Linked DNA regions of Homo sapiens. The protein of the gene in region 3 binds, or shares a complex with, the protein of the main gene of each other region. Each region holds a gene or a part of one and is shown on either strand. Other genes may lie near its edges. The genes, in order: SNRNP200, BCAS2 and SNRNP40.

Region 1 (3,655 bases), on a different chromosome or scaffold from region 3:
TGGCTGGGGCAGCTTTTCTTTAATACACAAACTGAGGAAATGACCCTGCAAATTTCAGGGCTTAGAAAGCCTTCATACGGAATCACAGATGAAATGCTTCTTGGGAAATTCACATGACACAGCGCCACGTCATACCTGCTCTGCCAGGGCCTCCATGGGGGTGATGTACACACAGCGCCCCTCCGAGCTCTGCAGCAGCATTCGCAGGATGGCAAACTCTGCACAAATAGTCTTCCCGCTGCCCGTGGGGGCCCCCACAAACACGTTGTCGTCACTGTTGTATACAGTGTTAAACACTGGAAACCAACAGAAAGAAGCAGTGTAAGTATCAAGAAGGAAGAAGAGACGGACTGGGACATGGATCAATTGTCAAAACAAAGGACAACATACGAAATGAAGTCAGGCAGTTCTGGAGTGCAGACAGAGGAGCTAAGGCATCCAAGCCTCTAACTCCAGGCCAGCCCTACTGTACCCCCTTACCTGCTCCCACTTAACAGTTAAAGGGGAAGAGGCCAAGATCAAGAGCCCAGGTCCCCTGGAGATGTGTGGGATGACAACAAAAGCAAAGCAAAAGAAGCCACACATTCTTCTTTGCTTCTCAGGGACTAGGATGCGGGACAGAAAGGAACTGGATCCCTTTCTCTGCCCCTTCAACACTCTCCTGCGTTTCCTAGAAATAGCCTAAGGTAGAAAGTAAGAGCCTTATCCCTGGCATCAAGACTGAATTAAAATCCAAGTTCTACTATTTATCAGTTGGTTCAACTGGGGAACCCTCTATGCCTCAGTTCCTCACCTATAAAAGGAACACTAATGGCAGTATCTCCAATAGAGATTCCTTTTAGGCTTGATGGGAGGAATAAGAGAGAAAACACCGGTGATGTACTCAGCCATGGACTGAGGAAACAGTGCCTGCTCTGTGAATGTCCCCGTTATTTATCATGATGTGGTGAGGAGGCTTCAGTGCCACCCCATGGTTCTGGTTCAATACTTGAGCGCCAGGGGCAGGCCTCTAAGCCTCCTGGGCCCGAGAAATGACCATGCCATGTAAGGCCTTGCTCTATTGCCCCTCCACAGTGACACATGCAGAGCAGCAAAGCAACCAAAGGCTTCTGACAAAGGAAAAAGTCCTGGTGGGTCCCAGCGGTCACACTGAGGAGCTCCCAGACCTCCCAAGTGCCTGAGCACCCCCACTCCCCTGCCTGCCACAGAGCACATCTGTCTCCCGGTGACTTCAAAAGCCTCCAGAGGAGGGATGGAAACACTTACCCTGGGTCTGGATGGGATTGAAGAAAGGAAATTTATCTTGGTAAAGACTCTCAAAGGCACTGTTTCTCAGAGCAGACACGGGCAAGGGCTGCAGGTCCAAAAGTTCGGTTGGAGGGGGGTACTTCTCCGGCAAGATCAGGTGCCGGAAGGAGACAGGCAGCTGGGTCTCACAAGCTGCCAGAAAAGAAACAGGAAGGATATAAGCACTGCTCTCTTTCCCTCACTGGCCTCTAGATCCCCTCCATGAACACTGGAAACCTAGGCAGCATATGTATCACTCTGTCCCCAGCAAGGGCAAGCCCGGGACAAAGTGCAAGACATTCTTCTACTGTCCTTGGAGGGACTGTTCCTGGGGACTCTGGAGAGGAGACACTCACAGAGCCAGCGGTCAGACACCACTCGGATGAAGTACTGAGGGGGCAGCGGTTCAAAGACAGGCACGAAGAATGTAATGAGGTGCTCGTCCTGGGCGTACTTGGCCTTGAGGAGAAAATACTCATGGTGCAGAATCACCTCGCTGTCCACATCCTCCACCAGAATCCAAAAAGCCTCGGATGAACCATGCACCTGCCAACAGGAGCAAGGGTAAAAGGAATGTGAGTCAACGTAGACTGAGTGCCTCCAATCCATCTCCTCGGCCCAGCAACGTAGACTGAGCACCTCCAATCCAGCACCTCTGCCCAGCAAAGCCTCACCTTTTCATCCCACTGGAAGTCTGGCGTGATGGTCAGCTCCACCTTCAGGGTGGAGCGTGTGATAGGCTGCAGGTGCACTGACAACTCCAACTTGGGAAACAGATGGACATATTTGTGGATGGTCTTCCCCATCTTTGGCATGCGGATAAGCTCCCCTACAAGGAAATGAGAGTACTGAGGCTGCAGCCCAGCCTGCCTACTATACTGCAAACTGGGCCTGAGGGCCACTGTGGGAAAGGGGTAGGGTCTTCCCTTTATGGTCAGTGGAGCCCAGGATTCCAAGTCCCCAGACCAAGGGCCAGCCTGTACTTCAGTGGGACTTGGGGAGTGAACACAGGATACTAATGCACAGGCCTAGGAACAGGAAGACTACATAGGCAAACTGGGAGAGACACCCAGGCAGTGAGGACAAGGGCGAGAGCATCCCACACACCAATCTCATTATGATTCAGGTCGTACAGACGCTCAAAGGGGAAATTCTTCTTCTCAATCTTCTTCACTACTTCCTCAGGGAGTTTCCGGAACTGGCGCAGAGGACACATGGACTGCCACCTATCCAGGAAGGAGGCAAAGCTGTTGGTCCCTTCTGCAGGGATGTGACAAACCACCCACTTCATGGCTTCCAATAGTTTAGCAGTGACTACACAAAACACAGTCATTAAAGGCAGACACTGACACTGTGCCAGCCCTGGCCTCCACCACAGAGGGCCTTCCCTCTTCTCAATGTGCACCAAGGTTCAGGTCATACTTCCGATGTCAGGTCTGGAGATCAGATGCACCCTGAGGCTTTCCCATCAGACCCTTGGGTTGGGGACCCCCACTCATGGTGACCAGCATCCAGCTCACTGGGTCCTTACATGCGTTTGTCGATCATCTTGCAGAGGTTCAGGGTCTTGTCTGTAAGCTGTGCCCAACCTCGGTTCAGGACAATTTCAAATATCGCTCGCATCAACCGGCCAGCCGACTAAGCAAAGAAGCAGCATTCCCACTGTTAAGTCTCGACTATCCCCAGGCCTCATGAGCCACTCTACACACGGTTTCATTACCTCCAGCTCTGACACAACCACCCACCCTAACTCAAAGGCAAAGTCCCCTCTGTCTTTACGCCTTTCTCCGTTCCATATAGTAGATGCTTGCCGGATGGGGAACAATTAGAAGAGTGCTGCGGCTCAAGGTCACTGCACAACATTTTAACCTAACATTCACTGCATGATTTTAAAGCTTTTGAGTCATTTAGCATTTAGAGTTCTAGGAAGAGTTGAGGGTACCAGTGACCTGTTCTTAGAGGTAAAGATGAAGAGCAGCTAATAAAACCCTGTGCCATTTTTGGATTTATTTATGAGCTGTGCAGCAACAGTGGGAAATCACTTTGCTGCTGGGAAGCAGACACTGCGTGCTGTGGCTCTTCCTGTCTCTCTGAGGGCCCGTGGAGCCTCGAAGCATTCCCTCTTAAGGTCTTACCTTTCCCACGTGCTCAAGATGTATACTACAGAGTGGCTGTACCACACATGCACCAACCAACTACCCGGCAAGAGCAGAACTAAGCACTCCTCCCATCTCACTAGGGTCGGGCCTCCTTTCCCCAGGATGCACACAGCACACAGGGATTGAACTGTTCAGGCCCCTTCTCACAGCTGCCATACAACTCCGCTCTCACCTGTGTGACATACACCATGTCAGCCATCAGTGCAAAG
Region 2 (2,434 bases), about 83 Mb from region 3:
AGACGTACATGGAGACGGTGGAACAAGAATGACTTGAGTAATGAAGGGAGAAAGGGAATGGCCAAGCAAAAAGGAAGAGAGAAATGACACAAATATTCAAGATTATATTGTATAAAGGTATACATGTGTGTATGTAAAAGAACATTTTTAAAAATGCATAAACCTGAGGTACAAAAAAATTACCAAGTATGAAATCTCCCTCCCTACAAGATTTTATAAAATAATTTTTTTCCTTTTTTTTTTTTTAAAGACTAGGTCTTGCTCTGTTGCCCAGGCTGGAGTGCAGTGGTGTGATTATGACTCACTGCAGCTTCAACCTTCCAGGTTAAGCAATCCTCCTGCCTCAGCCTCCAGAGTAGCTGGGACTACAGACATGTGCCACCGTGCCTATTTTTTTTTTTTTTCCGTTTAAAAGGAGAATAAAGGTAGAGTTCTATTCAAGGCCAAAAATACTAGACTAAAAACAGGGTATTCTAAGACCAGAATCCTTTAGCAATGGTTCAATTTAGCAAAGGATCCTTCGCCAATGGTTCAATTCTCGTTTATAGTTCTCTTTAACACCTTATAAAGAGGCAGAGACGGGGAAGGGTGAATTCAGAAAATAGCATTTCTTTGTTACCTGTGGCATCCCATTTGAATGCTATTTGAATCATATTATTGAATCGACCTTAGAAAGGGCTAAACAATTTAAAAGATGATGGAATTATAGATACTCACTTTGACTCCATTTCTCTCAATTTAGATCCAGCTGTGAGTTGCATGTTCTTTCTCTGCCAGTTTAAATCTTGAATATGTTTTCTGTAAAAAATTATTTATACAACCCAATTACATTTTAATGTAAGACCTAAATCAACAGAAAACTCTATAACACAAGAGAATATCTTAATCCCATGAGAACAATATTATGTACAGTTATAGGCTAACTGTAGAAATTACCTTTCTTCTAATTATTTTTTGATTACAAGTTTCATAAAACATGCTCATTGTGAGAAATCACACACACACACACACACAAGCACACACAGATTACAAGTCTCAAGTCCCCCCTCTCATGCATGTCTCCTTTTTCCTGATAACTCCTGTTGAGTTTTTGCTGGGTGTCCTTCCAGGCTTTCCTATATGTGTGTGTAGAAATTGGTTTTAAAAATCAGATTATATGTGTTATTCTGCAACTTTTCCCACTCTAAAAGTGCCTTTCTATGTTTGCAGACTTGCAAGCTGCAAGTGGCAGAGATGTTTTCAGACCTCAGGCCTATTTCTCCTCTACTTAGGTAGGGCAAACCCAGTGTCAGATGTTGAACAAAGAGAGTGGATCAATTGTTTACTTTCATCTGGCTGCAGTCTCTTTGCTTTCTTTTTCCTCCTATTTTCTATTTATTAAAGGTTCACTTAAACTTCATTCTGTAATAGGAAAAAACAATTTACCTTAACTTCTGAAGTTCCTTCTGTGCGTGTTCAATCATATGAACTAGATTTCTGAAGGAAAAGAGGAAAATCAGATTAAAATACATTAAAATAGTACCAATTAAAAGTGAACTTTTTCAAGTTTTTCTGCCAAAAATCATATTTATGGAGCTCTGTGCCAAGAACTATGTTGGACACTCCATAATCGAGGACTGTCACTCATGCTGGAATGCAGTGGTGTGATCATGGCTCACTGCAGCCTTCACCTCCCATGATCAAGTAATCTTCCTGCCTCAGCCTCCCAAGGAGCTGCAATCCTCCCACCTTGGCCTCCCAAACTGCTGGGATTACCATGCCCTGCCTGATCTTGGAGTACTTAGGTTACTTTTTTTTTTTTGAGACAGTCTCGTTCTGTTGCCCAGGCTGGAGCGAAGTGGTGAGATCTCAGCTCACTGCAGCCTCTGCTTCCTGGTTCAAGAGATTCTCCTGCCTCAGCCTCCCAAGTAGCTGGGATTACAGGCATGTACTGCCATGCCTTGCTAATTTTTGTATTTTTTTTTTTAGTAGAGATGGGGTTTCACTATGTCGGCCAGGCTGGTCTCGAACTCCTGACCTCAAGTGATCCATCTGCCTCGGCCTCCCAAAGTGCTGAGATAACAGGCGTGAGCCACTGTACCCAGCTTTTTTTTGCGGAGGGGAGGGACAGAGTCTTGCTCTCCTGTTGCTCAAGCTGGAGTGTAGTGGTGCAATCATGGCAGCCTCAACCTCCTGGGCTCAACTGATCCTCCCACTTCAGGCCTTCAAAGTAGCTTGGATTACAGGCATAAGCCACCATGCCCGGCTAATTTTCATTACTTTTTTGTAGAGACAGGGTTTCACCACGTTGTCCAGGCTGGTCTTGAACTCCTGGGCTCAAGCAATCTCCCCACCTCAGCCTCCAAAGTGTTGGAATTACATGTGTGAGCCACACGGCCTTTTGTCACTTCTTAAACTGTCATGACTTCTTGTCATAGAAAAGATGGAATATATC
Region 3 (3,655 bases):
CATTAGGGCACTGTTGGGCTGCTGCCCCTCCCTCACCCTCAAATTCCCCACACTGGTTACCTACCCTGTGTTGTATGGATGCCTTCCTCACTCTCTGACTACTCCCTACAATGTACTGCCCTGCCCAGTGTGGATGCTCTCCTTACCACACTTGTGCTCTGACACTCTACTCTGGGCCACCTTGGCCCATCTCTAACTAGAGCACCTTCCCTGCTTTGGCCTATATAACTGGCTTTAGGACTGAACTGCTCATGAAAGGGAAATTTATATATATATGAGTACATACACACATACACGCAGTATTTCACTTAATTTTATTAGAAGAATGCACTTGATAAAAAGTTTGAAAACGATCTGTATGAATAATGCCCAGAATGCTTTTAGACTAAAAATGCAAGTGCTGTTGGAAACCTTTGCTTTCTGTTAAGAACTCTGACATGTAAAAAGCAACATGACTTTTTTTCCTCTTAAACTGAAGTTATTCAATTCCTGTACTTGCAACCTAGTAACAAAAATACAAGAACACAAAGCATTCCAACTTCACAAGTAACTGAAAAGTACATTGCAAAAAGCTGTTTAATGATGCCTTAAATATAAATATACTGACATTAAAAATAGGAGCTGGTTAAAAAGCAGTCATCTTTAGGTGATGTGACATACTGCTTATTAAAAAAAGTATTAACTTGAGTAATAAGGTAAAAATAACTATTCCAAATCATGTTTAATTAAGGCAGAAGAGAAGCAAAAAACCAAAAGAAGGCAGACAGAAAGGACATATACTCTTTTTCTACTACCTAAATAGTTCCTAGATATTTATTACAGCAGGCCCTCAATAATAATGTTAACAAAATTCACTGGGGCATTTCCACCTCTTACTATCTTCTGAAATGACAATTAGTAAATCAGCTACTGTTAAGACTCTCCAACTACAGTGACATCTAGGTCAGAGCTCTGGTTTAGAAACCAATCTTAAACAACAGACTCTCCTCCCATCCAACCATCAAGGGGCCCCAAGTGATTAGGTATAAGAAAACCACTCAGTAGAAAAACGTCTCAGCCAAGTGTGGTGGCTCACGCCTGTAATCCCAGCACTTTGGGAGGCCGAGGGGGGCGGATCACAAGGTCAGGAGTTTGAGACCAGCCTGGCCAATATGATGAACCCCTGCCTCTACTGAAAATACAAAAACTAGCTGGGCGTGGTATGGGTCCCTGTAGTCCCAGCTACTAGGGAGGCTGAGGCAGGGGAACTGCTTGAACCCAGGAGGTAGAGGTTGCAGTGAGCTGAGATTGCGCCACTGCACTCCAGCCTGGGCAACATGGTGAAACCCCATCTCTACCAAAAATAGAAAAATTAGGCAGGTATGGTGGTGTGCACCTGTAATCCCAGCTACTCAAGAGGCTGAGGCTGGGGAATCACTTGAACCCGGGAGGTGGAGGCTACAGTGAGCCAAGATTGTGCCACTGCACTCCAGCCTGGGCGATAGAGCAAGACCCTGTCTCAAAGAAAAAAAAAAAAAAGCAAATTCATTAATTCATTTAAAAAGCAATAAGAAGTATGGGGGTGTAGTTTCCCAGATGTACTCTTTTGAAGTCCCTCACTGTTTAACAATTAAAATATAAACCAGAGCCCAAAATTCGTGTCAAAGAGAGAATCAAATGGTTGGTACTATGATGTACTGTGTCCTTGTGTGCCTCTGAGATAAATTATTATTTCTAGGCCTCAGTTTCCTTATTTATAAAATGAGGATGCTCAGTGAGATCAGTGGCTCCCAGAATGTGAGACTGGCTACACTGAATCACTTGAAGGACACATTAAAATATCTGATTCCCATTGCAGATCCACTGAACCAGATTCTTTGGGTATTTTTAACAGGTTCTTCAGGTGATGATGATATAAAGATAGGCTGGCAACCATCTGACTAAACGATGTTTAAGTTCCCATCTTGTGCCATACTAAAACTATTCACTGAACTTTTTATATATTGTCTATAATCTCAGAACAGCCTTTTTTTTTTTTTTGCTACCTCCCTGTTGGTGGAGATACTCATAACAGCCTTGAAAGACACGTATATTACTGTCACAGTTCTTTTTTTTGAGACAGAGTCTCGCTCTGTCGCCCAGGCTGGAGTGCAGTGGTGCAATCTCTGCAAGCTCCACCTCCCGGGTGCACACCATTCTCCTGCCTCAGCCTCCCAAGCAACTGGAACTACAGGTGCCCGCCATCACGCCCGGCTTATTTTTTGTATTTTTAGTAGAGACGGGGTTTCACCGTGTTAGCCAGGATGGTCTTGATCTCTTGACCTCGTGATCCACCCGCCTCGGCCTCCCAAAGTGCTGGGATTACAGGCGTAAGCCACAGCACCCGGCCTATTTCAAGTAACAATTTATTCTATGGTTCTATTATTATTCTGTAGGGTAATTAAAACTTGTATTAAATGTTTTATTTTAAATGGGGAAAAATTTCAAGTGTGTTATGGGAGATGACTGCTAAAATTAAGTTTTGCACAGGAAGCTAGAGTACAAGTGGCAAGGCAAGATAAGGTTCACATCACATCACCTCAGAAACTGGAACACGGAGAGACAATACCCACCTTAACTGTGCCATCGTCACTGCCAGTGCAGACAAGCTGAGGGCCTCTCCTGGCTGGATAACAGGAATTCACAAAGGAAGTATGTCCCTTTAGCCTTTTAACCCTCTCACCTGTTTCACTATCCCACACAGCCACGGTTTTATCTGTGGATGCTGAGAAAAGCATACTAGAAAGTAAGAGAAAGAATAAAAAAGAAATAAGTGAAGATAAACAGTAACAATCTATCTTTCCTACTTGACAAAAGGTGCCAAATTTTTCAAGATCACTGACCTGCTGTGCTACGCCAGTTTGCCCATGATGCTGGAATGCCTCACCCTACCAAAATCCTATTTGTCCTCTAGGCCCAGATGGCCCAGATAAAAGATCTACCCCTGTGAAGTTTAAAAAATTCCCCTTCTTTGAGTCCCCATGACATACATCTAATGTAGCAGTTTGCTCTATCTTTTCCTCTTTTGTGATAGCTAACATTTTAAACATAAGACACCCTCTCACTTGGAAATGTTTAATAACTCCCTGGTGCTGCAGAGATCAGACAGACTGTGGTACCGACCTGACAGCTGAGTGACTCCAATCTTTTCTCTTTACCAAAGTTTTTCTTTTGTCTCTGAGGACAATTTCTTTCTTTCATTTTTTTTTTGAGATGAGATCTTGCTCTGTCACCCGGGTTGGAATCATGGCTCACTGCAGCCTCGACCTCCTGGGCTCAAGTGATCCTCCCACCTCAGCCTCCTGAGTAGCTGGGACCACAGGTCTGTGCCACCATGCTCAGTTAATTTTTAAAAATCATTTGTAGAGGCAAGGTCTCACTATGTTGCCCAGGCTGGTCTTGAACTGGGCTCAAGCAATCTTCCTGCCTCAGCCTCCTACAGTGCTAGGGTTATAGGCGTAAGCAACCACGCCCAGCCTCTGAGGATGATTTCTAAGTTATAACTGATCTTATAATGCTTTCTTTTTTCATTTTTTTTGAGATGGAGTCTCACTGTGTTGCCCAGGCTGGTTTTGAACTCTTGGGCTCCAGGAATCCTCCTGCCTCAGCCTCCCAAATAGCTGGGATTATAAGCACA

What was found.
Region 1: SNRNP40 (region 3) and SNRNP200 share a complex: the UniProt entries of both Homo sapiens proteins name them as parts of the U4/U6-U5 tri-snRNP complex.
Region 2: SNRNP40 (region 3) and BCAS2 share a complex: the UniProt entries of both Homo sapiens proteins name them as parts of the postcatalytic spliceosome P complex.

The regions. Positions count from the first base shown.
Region 1 is NC_000002.12:96,285,045-96,288,699, forward strand, and holds part of SNRNP200 (U5 small nuclear ribonucleoprotein 200 kDa helicase), read right to left. Parts: coding exon 3,619-3,655; intron 2,926-3,618; coding exon 2,819-2,925; intron 2,514-2,818; coding exon 2,395-2,513; intron 2,117-2,394; coding exon 1,962-2,116; intron 1,834-1,961; coding exon 1,644-1,833; intron 1,441-1,643; coding exon 1,267-1,440; intron 297-1,266; coding exon 136-296; intron 1-135. UniProt on the Homo sapiens protein: Catalyzes the ATP-dependent unwinding of U4/U6 RNA duplices, an essential step in the assembly of a catalytically active spliceosome. Plays a role in pre-mRNA splicing as a core component of precatalytic, catalytic and postcatalytic spliceosomal complexes.
Region 2 is NC_000001.11:114,569,275-114,571,708, forward strand, and holds part of BCAS2 (pre-mRNA-splicing factor SPF27), read right to left. Parts: intron 1,477-2,434; coding exon 1,426-1,476; intron 799-1,425; coding exon 718-798; intron 1-717. UniProt on the Homo sapiens protein: Required for pre-mRNA splicing as component of the activated spliceosome. Component of the PRP19-CDC5L complex that forms an integral part of the spliceosome and is required for activating pre-mRNA splicing.
Region 3 is NC_000001.11:31,286,663-31,290,317, forward strand, and holds part of SNRNP40 (U5 small nuclear ribonucleoprotein 40 kDa protein), read right to left. Parts: intron 2,758-3,655; coding exon 2,592-2,757; intron 1-2,591. UniProt on the Homo sapiens protein: Required for pre-mRNA splicing as component of the activated spliceosome. Component of the U5 small nuclear ribonucleoprotein (snRNP) complex and the U4/U6-U5 tri-snRNP complex, building blocks of the spliceosome.